2 separate regions of the Homo sapiens genome follow, and region 1 is linked to region 2. The links come from fine-mapping of genetic effects on gene expression. A gene starts in region 2. The other region holds a variant in brackets. All regions are shown on one strand. Distances are between the middles of the regions. Region 1 overlaps FNBP1 (formin binding protein 1). Region 2 holds the start of USP20 (ubiquitin specific peptidase 20).

What was found. PIP is the estimated chance that this variant, and not a neighbour inherited with it, causes the effect.
Region 1: its variant is fine-mapped to the expression of USP20 in whole blood (TOPMed, PIP 0.92).

The regions. Positions count from the first base shown.
Region 1 is chr9:129,886,593-129,889,493 of GRCh38, reverse strand. FNBP1 (formin binding protein 1) reads left to right here. Exons shown (of 17, transcript NM_015033.3): 17 at 1-2,307. Among named protein-coding and RNA genes, the nearest start is that of MIR6855, 18 kb to the right of the region's middle. RefSeq lists enhancers at 1-524, 479-568, 899-1,298. The variant T/G (reference allele first, on the strand shown) is at 1,190.
Region 2 is chr9:129,834,406-129,837,306 of GRCh38, reverse strand. USP20 (ubiquitin specific peptidase 20) reads right to left here and starts at 1,849. Exons shown (of 26, transcript NM_001110303.4): 1 at 1,808-1,849. C9orf78 (chromosome 9 open reading frame 78) reads left to right here and starts at 2,032. Exons shown (of 9, transcript NM_016520.3): 1 at 2,032-2,168; 2 at 2,541-2,600. The coding sequence starts at 2,086. RefSeq lists an enhancer at 1,099-1,599 and silencers at 1,571-1,720, 1,751-2,100.

The DNA.
Region 1 (2,901 bases), 52 kb before region 2:
GGTTCCAGCGATTCTCCTGCCTCAGCCTCCCAAATAGCTGTGATTACAGGCGTGCACCACCACGCCCGGCTAATGTTTGTATTTTTAGTAGAGACAGGGTTTCACCGTGTTGGTCAGGCTGGTCTCAAACTCCTGACCTCAGGTGATCCGCCCGCCTCAGCCTCCCAAAGTGCTGAGATTACAGGTGTGAGCTACCGCACCCCGCCGAGGTTAGCACTTTCATCACCAAAGACCCCGTGCCTCTCGTGGTCCTTTGAGGGATCCCGCCGCCACCACCCTTGTATTTTATCACGTGCTCTTCAGGGCATGTGGAATTCGTTGAGTTTGCTTTTAGAGCCAAGTTTCTTTCCCTGTGTGGGTTTTTGAGGAAAACCTGAGGTCCCCTAATCTGTGGCCACCACCCCCCCCCCCCGCCACGCCTTAGAGCAGAGCAGCCCCTCCTCTCATTTGGTGCAGAAACAGTCAAGAGGAACCATTGGCCTAGAGCTCCTGTGACCGAGAGCGCCACGGAAGCCTGGGGATGACGTCGGGCAGCTTTATTCTTTGCTTGGCTTTGGTAACTAGGTGGTCCCCTCAAGCATCCTCAGTTCCTCTTGCTGTTTATGAATCTAAGACAAGGAAGTCCTATAGAAGCCAAAGGGACAGGGACGGAAAGGACAGGTCCCAAGGGATGGGGCTGTCTTTACTTGTGGAAACCAGGAAATTGCTCCTCTCAGCCAACCAAGGTTGACCACACACCACCCTTCCGGAGCAGCTCAGTCAGCCCTCGGGGACGAGAAACCACAAGCGCAGAGACGCTGAGGCCCAGGCAGGTGAAGAGGAAGTGGCTTTGGGTTTTTAAAGTAGGTGAGCGTGAGCCTCTCTGACTGCTTCTTCCCCGGGGGGGACTGCAAACCGCTCAGGGTTGCGGCAGAGCCATGGACTTCCGGTCCCTGCAACGGGTGACCTAAGCGTGGTGCACCCATCAGTCACGCAGGAGGACTGACTTGACAGACGAAAGACAAGCCCGGATGACACAGGGTGAGAAGAGTCAGGGCCGCACCTCTGTCCCTGCAAACCAACAGGTGCATGGTGAGTGTGGCAGTCCCCACAGCTCCACAATGGGCTCCCCCGCCAACGGGGACGACAGGGATCTTCAGGAACTTCTGACCTCACCAAGTCAAGTGGACCACTCTCCACTCCACGAGGA[T/G]GTGAAACGGTTCTTTAAAATGGGATTTTAGAGCCTCGGGAATGCATGTGCGTCACATCTTTCATATTATGGGTCAGGATAGATTCATTTCTTGCAACATAGTGGAAAAGATATAAGCTGCAGTAATTTGCTCTTTGAATGACCGTCACCCCCAGTATAGGATATGCTTGTATCCCCCCGTCACTCCTCCGCCTGTTTTTTAAACTTTTCCACCACCTGCGTCCAAAAAGAATGTTATAGCGAGTGCTCTTAAATGTTGAACCTGGGTGTTGCTTCCGGGCCAGTCTGCGTGGCTCCATGAAAAGCTCACTGCTGCCCCAGCCGGGCTTCTTAGAGGAGGTCAGTTGTCCTATGTATCATCATTTACTCTGGGAATCCTACTGTGAAATCATGTCTGTATTTTTCTGGAGCAGTTCACATAGAGTAGAATGTGGAATTTCCCGTGAACGTCTCCTTCCTCCCCCGTATCTGCCGCCTGTCACTTCGCCACCGTGCTAGAATACTGTTGTGTTGTAAGATGACTAATTTTAAAAGAACCTGCCCTGAAAAGTTCTTAGAAACGCAGTGAAAGGGAGGAACTTGTCCTTTACCCAGTTTTTCCTTTGTAGGATGGGAAAGTATAAAAAGGCACAGAAGGTTGTCATGGGCTGTTCCTTGGGGGTTTTTATCCTGCTCACCGTGGAGATAAGCCTGCGGCTTGTCTAACCAGCGCAGCGCAAAGGTCTCGATGCCTTTTGGTAACATCCGTCATTGCAGAAGAAAGTTTACACGACGTCAAAAAGTGACGTTCATGCTAAGTGTTTTTCCAGAAATATTGGTTTCATGTTTCTTATTGGCTCTGCCTCCTGTGCTTATATCATCCAAAAACTTTTTAAAAAGGTCCAGAATTCTATTTTAACCTGATGTTGAGCACCTTTAAAATGTTCGTATGTGTGTTGCACTAATTCTAAACTTTGGAGGCATTTTGCTGTGTGAGGCCGATCGCCACTGTAAAGGTCCTAGAGTTGCCTGTTTGTCTCTGGAGATGGAATTAAACCAAATAAAGAGCTTCCACTGGAGGCTTGTATTGACCTTGTAACTATATGTTAATCTCGTGTTAAAATAAAATATAACTTGTGGCTCCGTGTCACGGGACTGTTTTGTTGCATGAAGATATGACCCTAGTTGTGGAAGCAGCCTGGTGTCATTGGAAGCCCCCTGGGCTGGGGAGCTGGCCCCTGGGAGGAGCTGGAGACCTAGATAGCTCTCAGTTCCACCCCCATCCACGGTGGAGGGGGAGGCTCTCAGACCGTGGTGACGTGGAATTCGGGCTGATGTAGTGCGAGGATTGCGAGAGGCTGCTTATGGCCAGGAGTATTTTTTGCATGCACATTCAACTGGTTGCTGCTCTAGCTCTTTGGGGACCTCATTGCTTGGGGCTGGGGCAGGAGGAGGTGGTGAAATGAGGGCACACCTGAGTTTCATTATTTATCTGGTATCACCAGTGCTCAAGCCGGTACTCCTGGTGGCGTGGCTGGAATCACTAGTTTCTGTGAAGCTGCAGGCAGTGCGGAGCTGTTTCACGTGGACAACTCGAAAGGGCAGCAGCCTTGTGCCTGGCACTGGCTGGACATGTGCAGTGGGAGGCCCCGTTTCCACAGCCAGCTTTGAAAATTTCACCCTGGCCTTTTGGGGGAAGATAGGATTGGTTTGTGCCCACACTTCTCTGTGTC
Region 2 (2,901 bases):
ACAAGACTAAGACCTTGGATTCATCTTTGAACTGCATAGAACCTGTATTTCTCGGAGGGTCCTTTTGAGAGACAGTCTCATCCTACGCTTAAAAGGGCCCAGTGAGACTTGGGCTGCAGTCTCTTGGCAAAGCCACTTACTGCCAGATTCATAGCTGCCACTTTTTCAGCATTCCTTTTGCTAAAGAGCACTCAATTAGATCTGCCACAGCACAGGTGGTGGTTATCACTGGGTCCTCTGGCCTCATGGAGCAAGGGTGGGAGCAGCTCATCTGTACCCTGGGACTTCAGCTGAGGAGGAGGGTCCAGAAATGCCCCTGGCCTTCTTGCCCTTTCCTTAGTAGTGTCCAGTACCCCCTGGTGGATGGGCTGCTTGATGGGCAGATTCAGAGCCACCTCTGAGAGCGTGAGAGCTGCAGACGTTGACCCCCTGGACTCCTGCAGCAATTCCCAAGGAGCCTCTCCATCATCTGACAGGGACTCCGTATCCAGTGAGTGCACGTGCATCTGGGTTTGGCTGAACCAGTCTGCAGAGGGCAAGACTTTGAGACTTTAATATATGGCTTTTGACCAAAGATAAAACGCTGGTGCAAGAAGTCCCGAGTCTACTATTTTTTCCAGCCCAAGGAAGAGAAGAACAATCTCAGTGGAGACTGTTCCAGAGAAAACGTAAGGCATTCTAGAAATGCTGCCCTGCTTCGGAATGGTCTTCCAGAAAGGGGAACCCCAGACAGCCCCCATCGGCCCCTCCCCCTAGCCAATGAGATGTAACAGCAGCTGCAGCAGCAGCAAACATCTACTGCACTCCTACCGTGCCAGGCCCTGTGCAAACCGTGCGGCAGAGACTGACCTGCAACCAATTCCTGTTCCACCTCCTAGCTGGGTAACTTGAGGCGTGCACTGCCCCTCGGAGACTCCGCATTCTCATTTGTAAAACGAAAAACAATCTACCTCAAAGGATTGCTGGGAGAATTCAATGAGATGATGCTTTGCCCAGGGCCTGCCACATAGTAACTGCTTAATAAGAGGTAGTTCTCAAAGTAAGGGATGACACTGAGAAAAGGAAAACTACTGTTACTTAAGGGGTTCTTAAAAGTCCTAGAAGCCATTATTTATGCATTTAGGTATTTCCTAAGCGTTTGCTGATACCAGTTTTTCAAATAAACTTTATCCTCACAGCATCTTCGGGGTGGAAGGGGCAGAGGGTAGAGCGACAGACCTGCCGAAGGAGGAAAACCAGACCCGTGAAGGTCCAGGGGGGTGGCCGGCAAGCACCGAGGAGGAGTCCCCCGGCTCAAACCCTCTTGCGTGGCTTCAAAACATCAGACGCGCCTCTCCTCGCGGAGAAGCTGGGGGCCATTATTTGTGAGGCAGTCGGCGCTGGGACTCTAAGTCAGCACCGCAGAGAAGTGGTCATCTTTTGTTCCGAAAGAAAAAAACGCACGTCAGGGCTCAGAGCCCGAGGAAAGAAAAGTCAGCGCCCGAGACGCGAGACGCCACGCGGATGCTTTCAACGCTAGGTCAGGCCCCGGCAGAAATGAGAGGGGGGCGGCCCCGGTTCTGGAGAAGCCACGAGCCCCCAGGGAGCTCAGAGTGGGGTGGTGCTGGGGCCCAGAGGCCCCCCTGGGCGCCGACCGGAGGAGGGGAGAGGGGCGGCGGCGGCCGGGGGGGTCCCGGGCTCCGCTCACCGGGCCGCTGCGTCTGGCGTACCTGGCGAAGCCAGGCCCTGTCAGCCCGGAGCCGGGCTGGGGTCGCCAATGCTCAGAGGCCCGGCCCACAGAAGCAGCCGGTGGCGGCCCGGAACTCACCTGCACTCGCAACTGCGCCGCCGCCGCCTGTCAGTCAAGCGCGCCCCCTCTGAGGCGACGCGCAGGGTTGTGGGGCCGTCTGGCGACGCCCCACCTCCTTCCCTCTGCCGTCCAATCGGAAGAGGCTGACGCCAGGAGAGGGGGCGTGGCCACGCGGACTGTGCGTGCCGGGGGCGGGGCCAGACGGGGCAGGCGCTCTGACCGCTCTGCCGCGCGCCGGAAGCAGCCTGGGCCGCTGCGCAGAGGCGCGGCGGCTGTACAACTCGGCCGTTGTCACCATGCCGGTCGTCCGGAAGATTTTCCGTCGCCGCCGGGGCGACTCGGAGTCAGAGGAAGATGAGCAGGACTCAGAGGAGGTTCGGTGCGTTTGGGGCGGGGCTCCCATAGGCTTGGTAAAGATAGACTTGTTTGGGGGACTCACCACCGGCTCGGCGCTTCGCTGACATTGTTAACTGTGAGCTCGGGTGGTGGTTCCTTCTGCGGACGCAGAAATTGAGGCTCAAGGGGTGAGGCCACCGCCCCAAGCTCGAACGGTTGAGAGAGATGCCTCCGGGATGCGCAGTGGCTCTGACTCCCGGTGGGTCTAGGCACAAGGTCGTCCTCTGGACCACTGTGCTGGTGGCTCAGTAGCTGGGCTGGGATGCCCTCGAAGGTGCCTTATTGGCTCTGTTAGCTTTGGATTCCGCGGGGAATCACTCAGCTTATGCATTGCTGCTTCTTCTTCTTTTTAAAGATTAAAACTGGAAGAGACCAGAGAGGTACAGAACTTGAGGAAGAGGCCCAACGGGGTGAGGTGGGTACCACGCGGGGAGGAGGAGGAGGCGGCGGGGACGACAGACACATCCGCGTCCGGGTCGCTGTCACAAATATCTCCTCAGACGTAGATTTTTCTCTTGACACACTGTACACCTTCCACTGCCCAACTTGGAGAACAGCGTTCTTTGCAAATGTTTAACCAGGACATGCCCTGAGCTGTGTCGTCTCGGGGTGTGCTCCAGAGATACAGAAACAGATCACTAACTCGCGTTTTTTATTAAAACCAATTAATTGTGAAATGCATATCGATCGTTAAGAGTTTGTATAATTTAGAAAAG